3 linked regions of the Homo sapiens genome follow. The protein of the gene in region 2 interacts with the protein of the main gene of each other region in a pairwise test. Each region holds a gene or a part of one and is shown on either strand. Other genes may lie near its edges.

Region 1 (7,767 bases), on a different chromosome or scaffold from region 2:
ATTCCCCAAACTCTGATTTCTATAGGAATTTCACCCTACTCATCACTCCAAGTTAGCTGTTAGCAAAAGCATCTTACATAACGTGGCTCAAATACCTTGTGATTTTTTTTCCAAGACTCCTTGGTCCATGCTTTAACACAGAGCAGTAATAAATGGGGATGTCCACTAGCATCTTCAGGCTGGTTCAGGACTGTCTGGACCCCATAAAAGGGCCTTACTGAAGCCAGGAGACTTCAGATTTGAGATATGGTTCAAGAGTGTCCTTGAGTTATTCAACTAATAGGAGACCAAAGCTGTGTCTACATTAGCTGGAATCATGAGGCCCTTTCATTCAATTTCCTGTAATACTTTGTTATGAGTCATCATTCTCCTGAGATTCCAATCTCACCACGTAAGTATTTAAAGCATAACTCCAATGATCCTTTTATTTGCTACCTACATAACATCTGTACAATCTACTAAACAGGTATTTACAGTACTGAACACTTAGTTGGCCTTAGAGAGAATTAAAAATTGAAATACCTGCCCTGAAAAAGCTATTTATGCATTTAACAAATATTTATTCAGTTTTTCTTACTAAGTTCTAAGCTATGCAAAGGTAAAGAAACCAGATCTGTCCTTGCCCTCATATAAATTACAGCCTAGTGTTGATTCCTACCAGAAAGTTGAAAGTAGTAAGTGCTATGACCAAGGACAGCTGAGTCCTATGAAAGCACAGATTCAAGAGGGTCAACGAAGGCTTCCTGGAGACTAATAAGTTAAAGCTGTGGCATCTGACCAGCTAACTACTAGCCACATGTGACTATTTAAATTAATTTAAAAATTGGCCAGGTGCAGTGGCTCATGCCTGTAATCCCAACACTTCGGGAGGCCGAGATGGGCAGATCACTTCAGGTCAGGAGTTCGAGACCACCCTGGCCAATATGGTGAAACCCCACAGCAAAAATTAACAGGGTGTGGTAGCAGGCGCCTGTAATCCCAGCTGCTCGAGAGGCTCAGGCAGAACAATCGCTTGAACCTGGGAGGCAGAGATTGCAGTGAGGAGAGATCAGGCCACTGCACTGCAGCCTGGGTGACAGAGCAGAGCGAGACTCCGTCTCAAAAAAAAAAAACAAAAACAAAAAAAAGAGAGAGAGAAAAGGAAAAGAAAAAAAATATTAAAATTTCAGTGCTTCCACTGCTCTAGCCCCATTCAAGTGGTCAAAAGCTATATGTGGCTAGTGCTACCATATTGGGTAATGCAAAAAGAACATGTTTCTGGTCTCCGAAAGCTCTTCTAAACAGCACTGAAGGAAAACAGTGCAGCTCACTCTCCAGATGAGAAAACAATATACAAATGCCTGAAACAAGACACAAATAAAGGTTAACACACTAAAGCAAGCCTATAGCTCCATAGTTCATTATAAATAATTAACAAGGGAGCAGTAAGCCTAAAAGTAACCAGAGTTTGAGGTTTGAACAGGGAGAAAGAGTGAAGTTGATTTTATATAATCTAAAGATCACTAGTTTCAAACACGTGTCAAAATTGGAGTTGTCATAAGCTATGAGAGACAACATAGGTCACTTTTTTAAAAGCCCTTGCTGGTGGGACTGTATGTGGTAAACACAAAATGTCTGAAATGAATCCTACAAATAGAATACCATGGGCTAAATCTTCTACAAAACAGAAGTAAACACATTCCATGCATGGCTAGACTCAATCTTACAGTCCAGATAGACCGTATCAAATGAAAGCATTTAAAAAATGCATCATATTTACGAAAGCAAAATAAGCTGGAACCAGGATGGTTCTCCAACATAAAAACGCAGACCAACTAGACTCCAGCAGGTTCAAGTCTCTGCTTTCCTCCCCAGTTGCTCAATGCCCCGCACCACGTGATCCTGTGCTGTTTAGACGACTCACTTTAAATTGTGCACAAGATTCACAAACAACAAACGTCAAAGTGAAAGTGAAGTACAATTTAAGTGCTGGCGGATGTTCCTGAGGAAGGTGTTTACTGAAACCTTTCAAAGGCGCCCGTTTTATACGATGATGGTGCTACAATATGAACGCAGTCTAGTATCTCAGAACATACAGCAAGTTATTGTCCCATAGGAACATCATCCTCTGATACGTATCAAAACACTGTCTCAGCACAGAGCTGAAAACCAGAGTCTGGATGACGTGAACAGCCTGACATCTAATTCAAAGCTCTACCATCATAAGCAGTGAATGGGATCCTTAAGGATGCGGGCTCAGCTCCAGCGCTCCTTTCAACTTCCCCTCCCAGGTGCGGATGGTTCAGAATTAAGGGATCTCAGGTAGCCAAGGACTGCAAGGACAGCCATTTGGTTTAGCTTTGAAGACCCACTGGCCAAAGGTTTCTCGACAATTTAATGCGCAAGGGGAGTCAAGTGAGAAATGGGAAGAGGCCGCGTTGGAAAGCCACTGCGCGTGCGGGGACTCTCGGGGCAGCCGCGGCTGGCGGTCGTGGCCCAGAGCCCAGCTCCGCCGCCGGGTCCCGCACACCCCGCGCCCCTCAACCTAAAGTTGGGCCGTCCGTCAGCGGCCGCCACGAGGAGTCCCCATCCCCGCCGGGTGGGCCGCTCCGCCCCGAGAAGGCCTCCCCGCGGCCAGCGACACCGGTGCCCACGGGAGGCGGCCGCGGGGCTTCCACAGCCCCCAGCGCCTCTGCGCGACCCTCCCGGGGCCACTGACCTCCCCGCGGGCCCCCAGGGCCGCCCACCCCGGCCCCAACCCCGCCGCCGGCCAGCCCGCGGCCCGGGGGGGCCCCGCGCGCCCCCGGCCCACCTGCCTCCTCCGGGTCCTCTCGGAGCGGCCGGCTGGGGACGCGGGGGCGCGGAGGAAAGGCCGAGAGGCGCGCTCCCGCCGGCGCTGTCTCCCGTGGCCGCCCACGGAGCCTCCCGCCGCGCCGCTCCACACCTCTCCGGGCCCCTCCCGCTGCCTCCCACGCGGGGTGGGCGCGCGCGCAGTGCAGGCGGCCGGGCGGCGCGCAGGCCTCGGCCACGGCCCCGCGCACGCGCTGGGGACTCGGTGGGGACGGAGGAGGCAGCGCGCGCCTGCGCTGGCTCGCCTGGCTCCCGCGCCCCCGCACTCCCCAGCAGTCAGATGATCGGGCGCACGCGGGGCCGCGACCCCGGCTGACAGCGTCTGCGGGGTGTCGCAGTGTTACCTCCCCCGCCGCGAAGCCAGGCGGCCCCGGCACGCCGTGCGTGCCCACCGCCTTCACAGCCCTCAGCCTCGCGGCCTCACGTCTCTAACCTGCGGCGCCCCCACCAGCTGCTGGGGCCGGGGACCTAGTCTTACCCGTCTTGGGCTCCCCAGAGTCCAGCCGAGCGTGGTCAAGAGTACATCCACCAGTTCCCTGCTGGCAGCGCTTGCTGTAAAAGGCCTAATCCGTGCTACACCCACGTTGAGCAATTAGTTCATATCTCCTGCGGCTTTGCTGCCTCTTCACCCACGTTTTCTCCTGACCCCTTCTCCGTCTCCCAAGGACCAGACAGGGTGAAACTGTGCACCTAAAGTCGTGAACTCTGACAGCCTGACTCTCTGTCATCTGGTAACAAGAAAGCGTTACTGGACACATAGTGAGTCCCCTTAATGAGGAGACCTAGTAAGACCATGACCGAAGTTTGAAACATGGAGACAACAGTGTTACATCTATCAGCTGTCTCTGAGGCCTACAGCGGCTGCTTCATAGAGGCTGTACTTCTGTGTTCAGCGCGCACAGTGCCTGGCAGGAACAGATGTTGAATGAACGTCTGTCAGTGTCTCTGCAAGAGCAGAGGTAAGCGCTCACCGCACCCCGGAGCATCTTTTCCTGTTAGAATCATTGATTTCAGGGACTGGAAAAAGCCCCCTTCCCACTTGCCTGAATCCTCCTTACAGTGTCTTCCCACCAAGCAGTGGTTGAACACCTCCACTAACAAGGAACTCATTACCTTTTAAGGCAGCCATTTAATCTTTGATCAGCCTTTTGGAAATTTTCTACCTTAGGAGCTAAAATCCAGCTCCCTGCATCTCTCCCTCACTGGATTTTGTTTCTGCCCTGGGGACTCTTAAGTCTGACTCCAATTCATCCAAGACACACATTACCTGTCCCTTAGGCTACTCCTGATATGACCTGGTCACAATCCCACTCACCAGCATGTTGAGGGATTCTCTTGGATGCATTCCAGCTTGTCCAGAGCTCTCTTAAATGTGATTATCAGGAATGAGTGGGTGGCCTGCCAAGTGCGGAGAGGAAAGAGACTGCCACCTCTTCTTAGGTCCTATGCTTAACAACATTCACCATATCAAAATAGTTGCTAGGAGCAGTCACATCACATTGTTGAATCGGGTGGAGCACACTTGACTAAAACCCACAATATTTGAATACATGACCATCCCTGACCCTGGTCAGCTGCCAGTTTCTCTGTCTCTGCAGGCTCAGCATCTGCGAGTGCTCTCAGAGATAATGTGACACGGATACTTCCTCCTCCCTCTGAAGAGTCCACCTCCCTTTCCCTGCTTTCATCATACCCTCTTCTTGTCTGACCCACCCATCTCTTTAGCTGGTTAAAAGAAGGAAGGCAATCTGCCCTTGGTTGGCTTCAAGCACCTATAAATGAGGCCAATTGTCATTGAACCACAGAAAGTCATAAAGATCTGTGTGTAACAGAGTAGCTATTGGTGAAGTTTCCAAACGTATACAGTTCACTTTTATTGCTGATTTAAATTATCCATCTGAAATACCACTATTAGTAGGTGACAAGGCATGGCTAGCTCAGTTGTTCTTAGTTATAATAAAGATCTCTGTTAGAACCAGCCAGGCCACTGGCTTTATCTGCTACACCCAAACACTGTATGATACATAGGCAAATTCCCAGGATACCAAGCCACCAGAGTCTCCCACTCACTTAGTTGCCTTTGTTCAAAAATCTGACGTTACTTCTTTATACCATCATCAAGAATGCAAGTGCTCGTTGGAGTCATGCTTCCTAGAATACCTCGTGACATACAAGCTTTAGAACCAGGTATTGCCCAGTTAACCAGAGTGAGACTGGACAATGATATGTGGCCAGAACTTGGAACTTGAACTATTCATTGGGGTGGGAAGGCACATGGGGATGTGGACCAACTGTAGCTGCTGAGATTCAATTCTATCTGGAGACACAAAGTTCCTGAAAAGTATAGCAATAATCCACAGCGTCAGGAGGTGATCAACTTACTGGTCAACATCACAGTGTGGAGAAAGGGCATTACTCACTGACCACTGTAAGGCACTTGACCTATGGAAATCTTGTCTTCACTTTACAAATGAAGAAGCAGACTCTGGGAGGCTGCGTGACTTGCTCCATGTAGCCAGGGGCAGAAATAAGATTCAAACCTAAGTCTGTCTGATCTGAAGGCCTATGTTGATTCACTACTTTGCTAACCTACACAGGCTGTCTTTGGGGGCATTAAAGACCCAGAATGGCTGCATAGAGCAGCATTCAGGAATTCAGACACTCGGCAGCAGGAAGATCTGTCAGCAGCTCTCAGGACCCCGACCATGATAAAAGGGTTAGAGGAAATAGCAAAAGAAGACAAGGTCACTGCTTTTACATGGACTGGATATGGGATGGAATATCATCAGTTTCTAATTTGTGAGTGTATAGGGGGCCTAGGCCCTTAGGACCATGAGAGACACCCAACTGTCAGAATTGGGGCACCAGATTGGAGTTCAACTAGCAGAAGTGCTTAAATGCAAAAGATCAGAGCACTGGGCAGAGCCCCTAATATCTTCCTGTCTGTGATGTTTACAGGTGTGATCATCAGCATAAAAAGCCCAACAGAATCAACAAAGTATTAGAAGTAATGTTAGCTCAGCAAGGTTGCCAAGTACAAGATCAGTTTCTAAAAATCAATAGTTTTGTCTACATCAGCAGTAAGCAACTGGGAAATGTAACAGACAATAAGAAACCATTCACAATAACAATAAAGTTTAACAAACTCTAAAGCATAATATCCAGGAATTAACCCAACAACTTGCAAAAACTTTAAGGAGAAAATTTTAAAACTCTATTTAAGGACATAAAATATTGAATAAGTGGAGAGATACAGCATGGATAGGATGACTTTACATTGTAAAAGTATCCATTTAGTCTCCAAAGTAAATGTTATGGCAACCAAAATTCCAGCAGAAACTAAATTTTTAGGGAACTCAACAAACTTACAAAATATATAAGGAGAAATAAATTTTAAACAGTTAAGTCAATTATAAAAACCAGAGCAGACCTGCCATGCCAGATATTATGTCATTGCCACATAGTAATAAAAATATTATGGTACTGGTATAGGAACACATAGAGCAAATAGGAAACAGAATGAAGAACTCAGGAGCAGACCCACGTATAAATGCTACCTCCATTTACACAAAGGTGGTACCACAGATCAATGAGAAAAATATAAATTATTTAGAAGACGGCATTCGGGAAACTGGCTTTAATTTATCAAGGAAAAATAAAGTTGAGAGCCCCATGTTCTGCCATATACAAAGGTGAACTCCAGATAAATGGCAGACCTACATATGATACAAAAGAAAATGCAGGAGACTATCTCTATAATGTGGGTTAGGAATTTACTTCATAAAACAGGTTTGCAAAAGCACAATCCTTGAAGCAAAAAAAAATTGTATGACTTGACTGCATCACAATTAAGGGTTCTGTTCAGTTAAGAATACCATAGAAAAAATTAACAGATGGCTGACAAATTGGAAGAAAACATGTGCTATGTTCAAAAGCAACTAGGGATTAATATCTGAAATGCATGAGGAACTTTTCACAAATCAAAAGGAAGTCAATATAAAATATTTTAAAGGCCAATATAAAAATGAGAAAAGTATAAGAATAGACAATTCACAGAAGGAAAAGCCAGAATGGCAAGCAAGCATTAAAGAGATGCTCAACCCCACTTGTAATCAGAGTGGGAATATAAAGAGTGTGACCCCATAGCCACCAATATGCTGGTCTATGTTTTAAAACCCGCTCCCCAGGGAAGGAAAAGTCCTAACGTACAGTGTTTGCCAATTTCCATGGTGCAAATACTCTGAGCACTGCCAGTTTCCAGCTACCAGTGTAGCTTGAGGTCACTGAACAAGAAGTTGGGAAGAAATGTGCTTTATCAGCTCTCATGAACTGTTTTCAACACACCACTGCTTCACCCACCAGCATGGCAGAAATCAGAAAGATAATCCCAAATATTGGCAAAGATCTGGGGAAAGATGCACTGCTGATGGAAATTTAAACTGGTAAATATATTCTGCAGATCAACCTGGCAGTGCTTAGTGAAAAAAATTAGCAGTATGCTTTATGACTCAGCAGTCACCCTCCTGGATATGCCTCAGAGAAACCCTTACAGTGGTTCTATAAGCACCTTGTTCATGCAGTTTCCAGGAAGTCAGTTTCTCATTCACTAGGTGACCTTATTCAGTCTATGGCTTTAAATATTGACCAGGCGTGGTGGCTCACACCTGTAATCCCAGCACTTTCAGTGGCCGAGGAAGGATCACTTGAGGCCAGGGGTTCAAGACCAACCTGGCCAACATGGTAAAACCTGGTCTCTGCTAAAAATACAAAAATTAGCCAGGCATGGTGGCGTGCACCTGTGATCTCAGCTTCTTGGGAGGCTGAGGCAGGAGAATTGCTGGAACCTGGGAGGTGGAGGTTGCAGTGAGCTGAGAGCATGCCACTGCACTCCAGCCTAGGGGACAGAGTGAGACTCCATCTCAAATAATAATAATAAAT
Region 2 (7,104 bases):
CATTCATGGCACAGCGGTGAGTAGCTGTTGGGAGCAGCTGGGCAAGTCTGGGAGCCAGTGCTGTTCCTGTGCAGACTGTACATGACCCTGAGCTGTGGTGTGGGCGTAAGAGGGGGAGACCGTGACATCCACCATCCCATCTTTCCCATTGATCATGAATCTGGCTAGCTGGGCAGTAGTGTCCCCTCACTTCCTCTTCACTTGGGGATTTTGCTCTCCCTAAACATTTGAATTTGAAGATGAAAGCTGTTCTTTGTTCAAGCATGTATGAGTGGACGCCCTACCCTCCTGGAGCGTCCATACACATAAGTACAATGCCAGAATACTTTCATTTTTGAAAGTAGGAAAACCAAATGGCCTTTGAAGGGGAAGTGGGCTTGGACTGCTGCCTTGGCATTTTATTTCAACCATATCCAGAAGCTGGCTGAACTCTAAATGTGGTTCACTCAAAAGCAAGATAAAGAATTTTTATCCTGCTTGGCTAATCCCTGTCAAGGCCCTGTCAAGGGATCTTAAAATTTAGTCAAAAAAGTATTTTGAAAACATTAGTCATTTGCTATATCACTAATTCGTAAAAGGCTGTTAGGCTGTGCTATAAATTCTGATTTTGTAAGTGAAAAATATAATTTGTACTTATTATTACGGGCTGAGGTAATGTTAATTTTCACCATGCTATAAATGCAATGAGGTAATTTGTATGTCTCCAGGAATCTTCTTCTTTGTTTTAAATCTTGTGTTTATTTGGTGTCAGTTGAAAGATATAAACCTTGTTCTGTGGTCTTTAGACATTGTACTTTAGTCTTAAAGGACTCACCAGTGAACTAGAAGATCTCATTGCCTCTCTCCAGGATAACAGTATGACCCTTTTGATGAAAGGCTGAAACAGTTTCTTAAAATCGTAACTTCCCAGAGCAATTCAGATTTATAAACCTGATGGACACTTAAAAGGATTTTGCTTAAAGGATAATTCAGGGTTGTGAGAGCTTGATGGCTTTGCCTACAGCCTGTTTTTCTTTCAAGCTCCATCGGCCTTTCTGGAATCAGTGTTTGATTCATGATTGAGTCAGGCCTCCAACCCTCTAAGCCACAGGTGAAACAATCTTTGATGTCTGGAAAGTTTTAATTTATTAGAGTGTTGGTGTTTCAGAGATCCTCCTTAGCTGTAGACAGAAAGCCGTAGTTAAACAGAACAGGTTGGCCCCAAAGTTGGGTACTCACTGGGCAGGGGAAAAGAGCATTTACCATGGAAAAACTATCTTGTTCTGGGTAAAAACAAAAATTAACACTCCTTGAGAGAAGGTTGAGGGCCACCTGTGGCTGACAGGTTAAATGAGAGATTTGTCATCACATGATCCAGAGCCTTGTTTTGTTTTGTTTTTATTACCTTCCTCTTTCTCTATTTAATCACATAGCTGTCTTTTTACCTCTTTACAACCAAGTATTTAGGCAAATACTAACAGAAAACGACTCAGAGTCATTTATACCCTGGAGCTGCACTGTGGAATTCAGTAGTGACTGGCCACAGTGAGCACTTGGAAAGTGGCTACTGAAACTGACAAGCTAAATTTTAAGTTTTTAAAAAATATTTAGTTGTGTTAAAAAAAAAAAAAAGCATGTAACGTAAAATTTACCATTTTAATCATTCTAAAGTTCAGCAGTGTTAAGTATATTCATATTGAAGTGCAACCAATGTCCAGAACTTTTTAAGTCCTGCAAAACTCAAACTCTATACCCATTAAACAACTCCCCATTTCCCCCTCCCCCCAGGCCCTGGCAGCCACTGTTTTAATTTCTGTTCCTATGAATTTAGCTACTTTATAGACCACATAAAAGTGAAATCATGCAGTGTTTGAATTTTTGTGCCTGGCTTATTTCACTTAGCATAATGTCCTCAAGGTTCATTCTTATTATAGCATATGTCAGAATTTCCTTCCTTTTTAGGGCTGAATTATATTCCATTATATTTGTATACCACATTTTGTTTATCAGTTCATGTGTTGGTGAACATTTGGGTTGCTTTCACCTCGTGGCTATTGTGAATAACGCTGCTATGAACATGGGAATATAGATATCTCTAGAGATTGTTCTTTCAATTTCACTTGATATATAGGGATTGCTGGATCATATAGTAATCCTATTTTCAATTTTTTGAGGAGCCTCCATGCCATTTTCCACAGCAGCTGTACCATTTTACATTCCCACTAACAGTGCACAAAGATTTCTGTATCTCCACATTCTCGCCAACAATCGTGATCTTGTTTTTTGATAACAGCCACCTTAAGGAATGTGAGGTGATGTCTTGTAGTTTTGGTTTGCATTTCTTTAATGATCAGTGATGGTGAACATATTTTCATATGCTTGTTGGCTTTTCATGTGTCATCGTTAGAAAAATGGCAATTCCAGTCTTTGCTCACTTTTTAATGGGGTTATTTTGTTTTTGTTGAATTGTAGAGTTATTTATATATTCTAGTAGTAACCCCTTATTAAATATATGACTTACAGATACTTTCTTCTATTCCATAGGTTGCCTTTTTACTCTACTGATTGTTTCCTTTGATATATAGAAGTGTTTAAGTTTGATGTTGTCCCATTTGTTTATTGTTAATTTATTGACACTTTATTGCCTACGCTTTTAGTGTTATATCCAAGAAATCAGTACCAAACACAGTGTCATGAAGCTTTTCACTTATGTTTTCTTCTAGAGGTTTTATAGTGTTAAGTCTTACATTTAAGTCTTTAATCCATTTTGAGTTAACTTTTGTATATTTTAGAAGGTAAGAGTCCAACTTCATTCTTTTGCATTTGGATATCCAGTTTTCCCTGCATCATTTGTTGAAGAGAATGTCCTTGTTTCATTGAGTGGTGTTAGCTTTTGACCATATACACAAGGGTTTGTTTCTGGGCTCTGGATTCTATTCCATTGGTCTATATATCTTTTTTTTTTTTGAGACAGTCTCACTCTGTCACCCATGCTGGAGTACAATGGCACAATCTCAGCTCACTGCAACCTCTGCCTCCCAGGCTCAAGCAATTCTCATGTCCAGCCTTCTGAGTAGCTGGGAATACAGGCATGTGCTACCACGCCCATCTAATTTTTGTATTTTTAGTAGAGAGAGGGTTTCGCCATGTAGGCCAGGCTGGTCTTGAACTCCTGACCTCAAGCGATCCACCCATCTCGGCCTCCCCAAATGCTGGGATTGCAGACATGAGTCGTAGTGCCCAGCCCCATATATCTATATCTGTCTTGATACCATTACCACACAGTACTGATCACTGTAGCTTTTCACCAATTGAGTATCTCTAATTCAAAAATACAGAATGCTCCAAAATGTGAAACTTTTTGAATACCAACATGACACTCAAAGGAGATGCTCATTGGAGCATTTCACATTTCCAGTTATATGGATTAAGGCTGCTAAAGCAGTAAGTGTTAATGCAAGTATTCCAGAATCTGAAATCTGCACACTGTAATCCCAATCATTTTGGATAAGGGATACTCAACCTGTAATATGTTGTGAAATCAGGAAATGTAAGAATTCCAACTTTGTTCTTTTTCAAGATTATTTTGGTTCTTCAGGATCCTTTGAAATTTTCTGTGAATTTTGGGTTGAATTTTTATATTTCTGCAAAAATAAAAAATTATATTGGGATTTCAATAGGGAATGCATGGAATCTGTGGATCCCTTTTGGTAGTAGTGACATCCTAACAGTATTAAATCTTCTAATCCCTGCACACAGGACTTCCTTCCATTTATTTGTGTTGCCTTTAATTTCTTTCAGCACTATCTTCTAGTTTTCAGTATGCAGATCTTTAGCCTCCTTTGTTAAGTTCATTCCTAAGTACTTTATTCCTTTGGATGCTATAGGAAATAGAGTTGTTTTTCAAATTTCCTTTTCTATTTTACTTAATTTGAATTAATTTAGATTTAAATTCAAATAGGCAAATGTGGTTAGTGGCTAAATTTAGAACATCTTCATCATATCAGAAAGTTCTATTAAACAGCACTGCGTTAAAGTATCTGTCAGTGAATCGTCTCTGTTGGAGGATATTTATACTGTATTCTAAACCTACCTTAATTATAAAATTAAAGTCCTTTTCCTGCTGATATGTTGCCCAGACCATTGACTTGCTGAGTATGTGTTCCCCCTCAGCATTGTGGAAACTATTAATAGGAAAGATGATTGTATAGATGGTGGGCTATTAACTCAGATCAGGATGAGAATTGGGAGTGCCTTTACATGTGTGGTACCCAAATGGGTGGTTGGATATAAGAGTAACAAAAGGACTGAAAGGTTTAAAAAAGAAAGAAAAAAAAAAACTCCCTGGTTGGGAGGGTGTTAAGTATCGAGTGTTTTTCCAAACCATTCCTCCTCTGCTCACCTACCCCTAGGTGATTAAAGGAGATAACTTTTAAAAAAGAAAGAATTGGCTCAAAGGTACTGTAATTCTAGGATTATATACCTTTATATAGGTTCATTCCCTGATCCCTGTATTATCAAGGCACAGATAATAATAATCCCCAACCACCCCCACGCCACATCAAAAATTGTCCCTCTTGAGTCTTTTTCCCATTTACATCACCCATTGATCTGATTTCAGCCAAATCAAAATGTTTTGAGAAAAAGAAAAAAAAAGAAGGGCTACTTGAGGTACTTAACCCCAGTCTCCCCTGGGAAAAGACCTGGGCATGCCACCCTGTACACCAGCCAGGAGTGCCCCATATGGTGGCTGCAGCTTTTGATACCCAAAGCCCACAGCAGCTCTGTGAGGCCCCACCTCCTACTTTTGGGGACCTAAAATGGGAGAAATGGTGGTTGAGCAGCTGGAAATGATGCAGAGCTGGCACACACCTTGTGAAGCTCTTCTCTGCCTCTTTCTTCATTTTTTCTGTTTAGAAATCCCAGGGAGACAATGAGCATTATTTGACACTTAAATGTTTTTGCTCCTCTGATAACCCAGACCATCAACTAGGATGCTGCTAAGGAAAATGGAGGGAAGCAATTAAAAGGGACACTGAGGGGAACAAAAGGGAAAGGAAGGAAAAGAGGAGTCGATGCTTGAGCCAGGCAGAAAAGGAGAGAAGAAAAGGTACAGTACTAGTTCATGTGACCTGGGGCTAGATAATACTCTGCCCCTTCCCATGTACGCTTGCAGTCTGCCCTCCTGACAGGTGTTCACATAGGTGCCTCCAGCACGTGCCCCTCCCACCTGAGGGCATTGTCAGGTTTCAGATACTTGGAATGGGTCTGTTTTGCTCTGTACAATTTTTGTTTGTTTGTTTTGGTCTTCATTGACTTTAGAGTAGTGGAACACTTCTCTGGGCTTCCCTTTGCCCATTTTGACTTAGGAAAGTGTCATCTCTCAAGCTGAATTCCTAGTTGGCAATCAGGGAGGGGTGATGTTTTGGCCCACCTTCAGATTTCAGTTTATTCCTGGTAAGGAAGAGCAAAAAAATAAATAGCTGAAATTCCTCACTTTAAACCTGACTTTTCTTCAAAATCACCTATTGTATCAGTTATCTATTGCTGCAAGAGGACAGTAGGTGAAGAAGGACTTGATTCCATTATACAACATCAATATAAAAGAAAAAAATGAGTTTATGTCTAATATAGCAGGCATATAATTTTTTTAAAGACTGAGATATAGTGTGTTTGGGGGGAAAATGTTGAAGAATTAAAAAGAAAAAGATGTGTTTTAATTAAAATTTTTTAAAAAATGAAAGTAACATTTGACATTTGTGGGGGATAAACCAGAATGGGACGTTTTGCTTCAGGTAATTAATTTTAGACACAAAGTATAGGTGCTTTCTAAAAGTATGTACACACATATGCTTTTTGACAAATATGACTCCAACACATCCGGAATCACCTTATTAGTGTCACATTGTGTTAATTCAGTTATACTGTTCAGTGTTAAGCTAACAAGGGCCTTTTGTTGAGATGGAATGGGTATATGTGACATAGCTAAGAAAATTTCTTAAAAGTCATTCAATGGTTTCTAGCTCCACTGTTGAGTATTGTGAGTGTGTTTGCCTCGCTTGTGGAAAAATCTAACTATTGAGTTTCTCTGAACTTAGAGCTATAAAAAAGAAAGAGAGAGAGAAAATGTACTCTTCCTCACATCTGGCACCCGAAGGGCTGTATCTCCATCTAATCCCAAAGCAAGACAACCAGCTCGCTCCCGACTTTGGTAAGTGAAATATAAGTGGCTGGCTGGGTTGTTTCATGTTAGAGAATTAGTAGCTCTCTCCTCTGAAAGTGAACTGTTCTTCTCATGCTGTTTGGCTTTGACTTAGGGAATAGCATTCTTCCCAAAAGGAAAGAAAAAAGAGAAATTGGAATGGTTCCCTAAAGCAACTCTATTTCTGTATCTACCACATAAAAAACAAATACACGGAGCTAAATATCTGCATTCTCTTCCATCGAGTCGTGTTCTAGGTTCTGGCAAGCCTGTTCTCATGTGTCCCCTTTTGTCTGCCTTGTTTGTTTGTGGCCCAGGCTTCCGTCCAAGTCTCTTCCTCATTTGCCTGGCACACCCAGACCGACATCCTCCTTGCCACCCGGCTCAGTCAAAGCTGCTCCTGCTCAGGTCCGGCCCCCATCCCCCGGCAACATCCGCCCTGTCAAGAGGGAAGTCAAAGTGGAGCCTGAGAAGAAAGATCCTGAGAAGGAACCTCAGAAAGTTGCCAATGAGCCCTCACTAAAGGGCAGAGCACCTTTAGTGAAGGTAGAAGAAGCCACAGTTGAAGAGCGGACACCTGCTGAACCAGAAGTTGGCCCTGGTAAGAGCAAACTCACCTGTGGTCTGGGTGCTCTCTCTTTTTCTCCCGCACTGTTTTGATGAAGCTTTTTTTGTTTTCCTTTTCTTCTTTTATTGGAGACTTGGAAATTTTACTCTAAGGTTAAGTTTAATACCTTTCCTTAAGTATAATATTTTAACTTCGCATTGCTTAAAAATAGTTTTTTACTTAGCAACGCTAAGTAAAAAATTACCTGGCAACACTATTCCTGTGCATACTGGAGTTTAAGGACCCCTGGCGTAGCCTGTGTGCTTGATAGAAGTCAGAATTTTTTCCAGAAGACCCACTGGTTTTCACCTCTGCC
Region 3 (7,734 bases), on a different chromosome or scaffold from region 2:
GCTCACGCCTGTAATCCCAGCCCTTTGGGAGGCCGAGGCGGGCAGATCACGAGGTCAGGAGCTCGAGACCATCCTGGCTAACGCGGTGAAACCCCGTCTCTACTAAAAATACAAAAAATTAGCCGGGCGCGGTGGCGGGCGCCTGTAGTCCCAGCTACTTGAGAGGCTGAGGCAGGAGAATGGCGTGAACCCGGGAGGCGGAGCTTGCAGTGAGCAGAGATCGCGCCACAGCGCTCCAGCCTGGGTGACAGAGCGAGACTCCCTCTCAAAAAAAAAAAAAAAAAAAAAGCTCTTTCTCGTAAGAAACCAGTGCATCCTGCACGTCTGGCCCTGCCCAGGACTTTTCAGTTCACCCTCATCACAACAGGCTCCAATCCAATACTTTTTTTTTTTTTTTTTTTTTTTTTGAGAGAGAGTCTTGCTCTGTCGCCCAGGCTAGAGTGCAGTGGCACGATCTCGGCTCACTGCAACCTTCACCTCCCAGGTAGAAGCGATTCTCCTGCCTCAGCCTCCCAAGTAGCTAGGATTACAGGCGCTCGGCTCACTGCAATCTCCACCTCCCAGGTTCAAGCGATTCTCCTGCCTCAGCCTCCCGTGTAGCTAGGATCACAGGCGCCCGCCACCATGCCCGGCTAATTATTATTATTATTATTATTTATTTTTTTTTTTGAGACAGAGTCTCCCTCTGTCGCCCAGGCTGGAGTGCAATGGCTCGATTTCGGCTCACTGCAACCTCCACCTCCCGGGTTCAAGCGATTCTACTGCCTCAGCCTCCTGAGTAGCTGGGATTACAGGCGCATGCCACCACGGCCAGCTAATTTTGGTATTTTTAGTGGAGATGGGGGTTTCACCATGTTGGCCAGGCTGGTCTCGAACTCCTGACCTCAGGTGATCCGCCCACCTCGGCCTTCGAAAATGCTGGGATTACAGGCGTGAGCCACCGCGCCCGGCCAGCTCCAATACTTTCATGGATGCAAAGAACACAACCCCTGCAACCGCTGCATGCGGGCATCTCTGCTGCCCAAGCCCGGGGACAGGCGCTTTCGCAACGCTGCAGCACGGTATGGGGGAAGCGCCCTTCTCCCTGGGCCAAGGTGAAGGGCGCGCTCGGGGTCTGAACACGTGGGTCATTCGTGCCTTCCCCTTTCCTCCCGGAAGGGTAGAGACAATGAGGCTTTTGCAGACAGCAACTCTCAAGTCCCTGGGCCCCGGCCCGGTCCCGCCCTTAGTACGGACACTCAGGCACACTTACTCTTCCACTAGCTCCGGCTTCCAGATGTCTCTGTCGGTGGCGCAGCCCAAAAGCGCGCGCAGCCCAGGAGCGTCTCGGAGCTGCACCAGGATGGGGATCAAACTGTTGAAATAAATCAACCTAACGAGGCCGCCAGGAAGGACCGACTACAGAGATTCGTCCTGCCCAGACATTTTGTACTCGCTTCTTGACCCCTTCCTCAAAATGGACGGTGTAAGGGACCAGGGGGAGGAGAGGGGAGCCGAGCAGGCAGGGGATCCCAGCGCCCGCACTCCTGCCTGCCCACCCCCGTCCCACCCCCCGCCCCCGGGACCCGATCGACCCGACCCCAGAGTCTGACCCCCACGACCAGTAGATTGACATTTCCTGTAGAACTTACTCCCCAGGCACTCCTGATCCAAGCAGGAAACCCCAGCCTTGGGTCCTCGCTGTCGCCTCCGCCCGCGCCACCGTTCCTAGGCTCTCCAGCTGGGAAGCGCGCTCTCTGCGCAGCCAACGCGCCTCCTTGCGGGCTCCGGAGACTCCGGCCGCTTGCTGGCTTCCTGCATTTCCCAAGGAAAGAAGGCTTTTTTTTCCCCTCAGTACTGTAAAAGGGCGGAAACAGACAGGTTGGGGAGTCTCCAGTTTCTCTCTTGTCCCCATTTTTATGTTTTTGCTACCACTCCCCCCCATCCGTTGACTAGCGGCTAAACCGCAAGGCTCCCGTCGCCTACCCTTGAAATGATTTTTTTCTTCCTTCCTTCCTTTCTTTTCTTTCTTTCTTTTTTTTTTTTGAGACGGAGTCTCGCTCTGTCGCCCAGGCTGGAGTGCAGTGGCGCGATCTCGGTTCACTGCAACCTCCGCCTCCCGGGTTCATGCCATTCTCTCGCCTCAGCCTCCGAGTAGCTGGGACTACAGGCGCCCGCCACCACCCTGGCTAAGTTTTTGTATTTTTAGTAAAGACAGGGTTTCAGCGATCTCCTGACCTCGTGATCCGCCCGCCTCGGCCTCCCAAAGTGCTGAGATTACAGGCGTGAGCCACCGCGCCCGGCCCTTCTTTTCTTTTCTTTCTTTCTTTCTTTCTTTCTCTTTTTTCTCTTTTCTTTCTTTCCCTTTTTTCTCTTTCTTTCTTCTCTTTCTTTCTTTTCCTCTCCCTCCCTCCTTCCTTCCTTTTTTCTCTTTCTTTCTTCTTTTTCTTTCTCTCTCTCCCTTCCTCCTTTTCTCCCTCCCTCCCTTCCTCCCTCCCTTCTTTCTTCTCTTTCTTTCTTTCTTCTTTCTTTTTTCTTTCTCTTTCTTCCCTCCCTCCCTTCTTTCCTTTCTCTCTCTCCCTCCCTTTCTCTTTCTTTCTTTCTTTCCTTCCTTCCCCCCTTCCTCTCTCCCTCTCTGCCCCTCCCTCCCTCCCTTCCTTCCTTTTTTATTTTTTTCCTTTTCTTATTCTTTTTTTCTTTTTTTTTTTCTGAGACAAGTTCTTGCTCTGTCCTTCAGGCTGGAGTGCAGTGGCGCAATCTTGGCTCACTGCAGCCTCAAGCGATCCTACCACTTCAGTCTCCCAAGTAGCTGGGACCACAGGCACGTACAAGGCATGCCTGGCTAATTTTAATTTTTTTTTTTTTTAGAGATGAAAACTCACTATGCTGCCCAGACTCGTCTCGAACTCCTGGGTGTCACGCGTGTCCGTATAGAAGACCACCTAAACAGGCTTTGTGTAAGCAACAAAGGCTGTTTATTCACTTGGGTGCAAGTGGGCTGAGTTGGAAAAGAGAGTCAGCGAAGGGAGATAGGAGAGGGGCAGCTTTATAGGGCTGGGGTAGGCAGTGGAAAGTTACAGTTAAAGGTGGTTATTTGTTGTCAGCAGGGGAGGGGCTCACAAGGTGCATTGTGGAGAGATCATGGGACTCATTGTCCAGGAGAAGAATGTCACAGGGTCGACTGATCAGTTGGGGCAGGGCAGGAACAAGTCATAATGGTGGAATGTCATAAGGTGGGTTAATCAGTTAAGGCAGGAACTGGCTGTTTCACTTCTTTTGTGGTTTTTCGGCTGCTCCAGACTTCTTGGCTCCTGCAGGCCATCTGGACGTATATGTGTAGGTCACAGGGGTTACAATGGCTGAGCTTCGGCTCAGAGGCCTGACACTGGGCTTAAAGTGATCCTCTGGCCTTGGGAGGCTGAGGTGGGCAGATCACCTGAGGCGAGGAGTTCAAGGCCAACATGGCGAAACCCTGTCTCTACTAAAAATACAAAAACGAGCTGGGCATGGTGGTGCATACCTGTAATCCCAGCTGCTCGGGAGGCTGAGGCAGGAGAATCGTTTGAACCTGGGAGGAGGAGGTTGCAGTGAGCTGAGATAGCGCCATTGCACTCCAGCCTGGGTGACAGAGCAAGACTCCGTTTCAAAACAAACAAAACAAAACAAAACCCAAAATGACTGCCTAAACCCAGACCTCTAGGACACAGACTCAGTTTCCCACCCTGACTCTGCTTAACTGGGGAGTCGCTTGATCTTCAGGTGCCCCTGATGCAAATCAGCTGAACAAAGCGTTTATCCTCTACTCGAGTTACATCGTTTCTTTTCCTTTGAGGGTCCCCAGCAAACCTTGATGTGCATCTCTTTTTCTTTTGGTTCTTTGGGAGGAAAGATTAAGCCCAGCCCAGCCAGCTCCTGGAGCTCCCCAGGAAGGAAGGGCTGGGAGTCCCTATCTGGTCAATTAAATAATTTATTTATTTATTTATTTTGAGACGGAGTTTCGCTCTTGTTGCCCAGGCTGGAGTGCGATGGCGCAATCTCAGCTCACCACAACCTCTGCCTCCCGGGTTCAAGCAATTCTCCCACCTCAGCCTCCCGAGTAGCTGGGATTACAGGCACACGTCACCATGCCTGGCTAAGTTTTGTGTCTTTAGTAGAGACGGGGTTTCTCCATGTTGGTCAGGCTGGCCTCGAACTCGCAACCTCAGGTGATCCACCTGCCTCGGCCTCCCGAAGTGCTGGGATTACAGGCATGAGCCACTGCACCCCGGCCTAAATAATTTATTTTTTATGGACTGTCTTTCTTCACTCTAGTAATGAAATTCTACCATAAAGCTTAAATTGCCAAATATTGATCATACTTACCCCAGTTACATTTTTTTACGGTGATAAAATATACATCACAAACATTTCCATGTGAACCATTTTTTTTTTTTTTTTTGTGACGGACTCTCCCTCTGTCACCCAGGCTGAGGTGCAGTGGCACGATCTTGGCTCACTGCAAGCTCTGCCTCCCGGGTTCACGCCATTCTCCTGCCTCAGCCTCCTGAGTAGCTGGGACTACAGGCATCTGCCACGCCCAGCTATTTTTTTTGTATTTTTAGTAGAGATGGGGTTTCACCATGTTAGCCAGGATGGTCTCGATCTCCTGACCTCGTGATCCACCCACCTCGGCCTCCCAAAGTGCTGGGATTACAGACATGAGCCACCGTGCCCGGCCTCCATGTGAACCATTTTAAAGTGTACACTTCAGTGGCATTAAGTACAGCCACATCGCTGTGTAACCATCATCACGATTCATCTCCAGAACTTTGTCATCTTTCCCAATTAAAACTCCGTACCCGTTAAATAATCACACCCCATTCCCTTTTTCTCTCAGTCCCTGGTAAGCTCTGTTCTACTTTCTGTGTCCAGGAATTTGACTGTTCTAGGAATCTCCTAGAAGTGGAATCACTCGGCCTTTGCCTTTTTGTGTCTGACGTATTTAATTTTGCACAATGTTTTCCAAGTTCACCTACGGTGAAGCATGTATCAGTATTTCATTCCTTTTAAAGTCTGAAAAGTATTCCACGGTATGTAGTGTTCAAAAGTAAAATGTATGGCTGGGCATGGTGGCTCACACCTGTAATCCCAGCACTTTGGGAAGCTGAGGCGGGCGGATCACCTGCGGTCAGGAGTTCAACACCAGCCTGGCCAACATGGTGAAACCCCGTCTCTACTAAAAATACAAAAATGAGCCAGGCATGGTAGTGCATGCCTGTAGTCCCAGGTACTCGGGAGGCTGAGGCGGGAGAATTGTTTGAACCTGACGGGGAGAGGTTGCAGTGAGCCGAGATCGTGCCACTGCACTCCAGCCTGGGCAACAGAGTGAGACTCTGTCTCAAAAAAAAAAAAAAAAAAAAAAAAGTACAATGTGACATAAGAAAATTTCTGACCTCGGGCTGGGGGCGTTGGCTCACACCTGTAATCTCAGCACTTTGGGAGGCTGAGGTGGGCGGATCACCTGAGGTCAGGAGTTCAAGACCAGCCTGACCAAAATGGAGATACCCCGTCTCTACTAAAAATACAAAATTAGCCGGGCGTGGTGGCGCATGCCTGTAATTCCAGCTACTCGGGAGGCTGAGGCAGGAGAATCGCTTGAACCTGGGAGGCGGAGGTTGCGGTGAGCCGAGTGTGCCATTGCACTCCAGCCTGGGCAACAAGAGCGGAACTCCATAAAAAAAAAAAAGAAAATTTCTGACCTCTTCCCCAAATAAACTACCTGCACGTAAGCCCTCATTTCAGGCTCTCCTTTTTGGAGGCTCCCAAATTATGACCGAAGGAGTCCAAGGACTTGAGAAGAACCCTGTTAAACCTTGGTTCAGGTCTGGGCTCAGGGCACTAAAGGATATTCCTCTTGCGACCTCTAGTGGTTGTAGGTGTCCAATTCCCTTCTATTTTCTCTGGGTCTTCATCTCCAGCAGTGCTTCCCTTCCCTTGTTTTCTCATCCTCTCCCTTCAAAAACCTGCTTCTTGGCCAGGGGCGGTGGCTCACGCCTGTAATCCCAGCACTTTGGGAGCCTGAGGCGGGCGGATCACGAGATCAGGAGTTCGAGACCAGCTTGGCCAACATGGTGAAACCCAGTCTCTACTAAAAATACAAAAATTAGCTGGGTGTGGTGGACGCCTGTAATCCCAGCTACTTGGGAGGCTGAGGCAGGAGAATCGCTGGAAGCCAGGAGGCGGAGGTTGCAGTGAGCCAAGATTGCGCCACTGCACTCCAGCCTGGGTGACAGAGCGAGACTCTGTCTCAAAAAAAAAAAAAAAAAAAAAACCCACAAAAAACCACAAAAAAACCTGCTTCTTTTCTGGTATCCTCAATATCCCGTTTCACCTATGCCTTCACTGCTAGGTGGATCTTTTTAAAGAAAATTGGGAACATTATATTATTTCACCTGTAAAAATATCACTACGATGGCCAGGTACAGTGGTTCATGCTTTGAGAGGCCGAAGTGGGTGGATTGCCTGAGCTCAGGAGTTCGAGACCACCCTGGGCAAAATGGCAAAACCCTGTCTCTAAAAAAAAAAAAAAAAAAATTAGTCAGGCGTGTGGTGCACGTAGTCCCAGCTACTTCAGCTACTTGGGAGGCTGAGGCGGGAGGATCACTTGAGCTCAGGAGGTGGAGGTTGTAGTGAGCTGAGATCTTGCCACTGCACTCCACTCTGGGTGACAGAGTGAGACTCTGTATCAATAAATAAAAAATAAAAAATAAAAATATCACTATGTATGTTTAAAAGATGAAGAGTTAAAAAATGCTTTACTGTCTTACATGAATACTCCCTTACAATGAAAAGTAATCATCATTCAGGACATCATAAAATATCCCGTTAATGTTGTCATTTCCCTGGTTCTTATTTTTACTTTATTGCTTTGCATAGAGATACAAATCATCCACTATAATAGGTTTTTGTGTGTGTGTGTTAATTCTTTGTTAATCTAAGTTGCCACTTATTTAATTCCATCCCCCCATTCAAACATTGCTATTGTTGTAGAAAGTAGGTCATTTTTTCTGTAAAATTTTCTTTGGTTTCAGTTTTGCCAATTAGATCCTTGTGTTGTCATTTAACATGTTTTTCTTTCTTTCTTTCTTTCTTTTTTGAGACGGAGTTTCGCTCCTGTTGCCTAGGTTGGAGTGCAATGGCGTGATCTCGGCAAACTGCAACCTCCGCCTCCTGGGTTCACACCATTCTCCTGCCTCAGCCTCCCGAGTAGCTGGGATTACAGGTGCCCACCACCAGGCCCTGCTAATTTTTTTTGTATTTTCAGTAGAGACGTGGTTTCACCATACTGGCCAGGGTGATCTCGAACTCCTGACCTCAGGTGATCTGCCCGCCTCAGCGTCCCAAAGTGCTGGGATTACCAGCGTGAGCCACTGTGCCCGGCCTTGGTTGCCTGTTTTTATGGTTATTTCTTCATGATATGGTAACCAAGGGGTGGATTATTCATGCCTTCCCTTTTTGGTCCACATAGGGTAACTTCCTGACGTTGCCATGGCATCTGTAAACTGTGATGGAGCTGGTGGGAGTGTAGCAATGAGGACCACCAGAGGTCACTCTCGTCGCCATCCTGGTTTTGGTGGGTTTTGGCCGGCTCCTTTACTGCAACCTGTTTTATCAGCAAGGTCTTTATGACCTGTATCTTGTGCCGACCTCCTATCTCATCCTGTGACTTAGAATGCCTTCATCATTTGGGAATGCAGCCCGGTAGGTCTCAGCCTC

What was found.
Region 1: the proteins of MAP7 (region 2) and CLIP4 interact in binary tests that used the Homo sapiens proteins (3 or more experiments, as listed by UniProt).
Region 3: the proteins of MAP7 (region 2) and ZNF114 interact in binary tests that used the Homo sapiens proteins (3 or more experiments, as listed by UniProt).

The regions. Positions count from the first base shown.
Region 1 is NC_000002.12:29,110,690-29,118,456, reverse strand, and holds the start of CLIP4 (CAP-Gly domain-containing linker protein 4), read right to left. Parts: upstream 3,043-7,767; 5' UTR 2,792-3,042; intron 302-2,791; exon of another isoform or gene 96-301; intron 1-95.
Region 2 is NC_000006.12:136,365,413-136,372,516, reverse strand, and holds part of MAP7 (ensconsin), read left to right. Parts: coding exon 1-16; intron 17-6,077; coding exon 6,078-6,190; intron 6,191-6,498; coding exon 6,499-6,782; intron 6,783-7,104. UniProt on the Homo sapiens protein: Microtubule-stabilizing protein that may play an important role during reorganization of microtubules during polarization and differentiation of epithelial cells. Associates with microtubules in a dynamic manner.
Region 3 is NC_000019.10:48,265,347-48,273,080, reverse strand, and holds the start of ZNF114 (zinc finger protein 114), read right to left. Parts: upstream 3,001-7,734; 5' UTR 2,862-3,000; exon of another isoform or gene 2,848-2,861; intron 2,179-2,847; exon of another isoform or gene 1,966-2,178; intron 1,861-1,965; exon of another isoform or gene 1,837-1,860; 5' UTR 1,632-1,836; intron 1,466-1,631; exon of another isoform or gene 1,355-1,465; 5' UTR 1,253-1,354; exon of another isoform or gene 1,249-1,252; intron 1-1,248. UniProt on the Homo sapiens protein: May be involved in transcriptional regulation.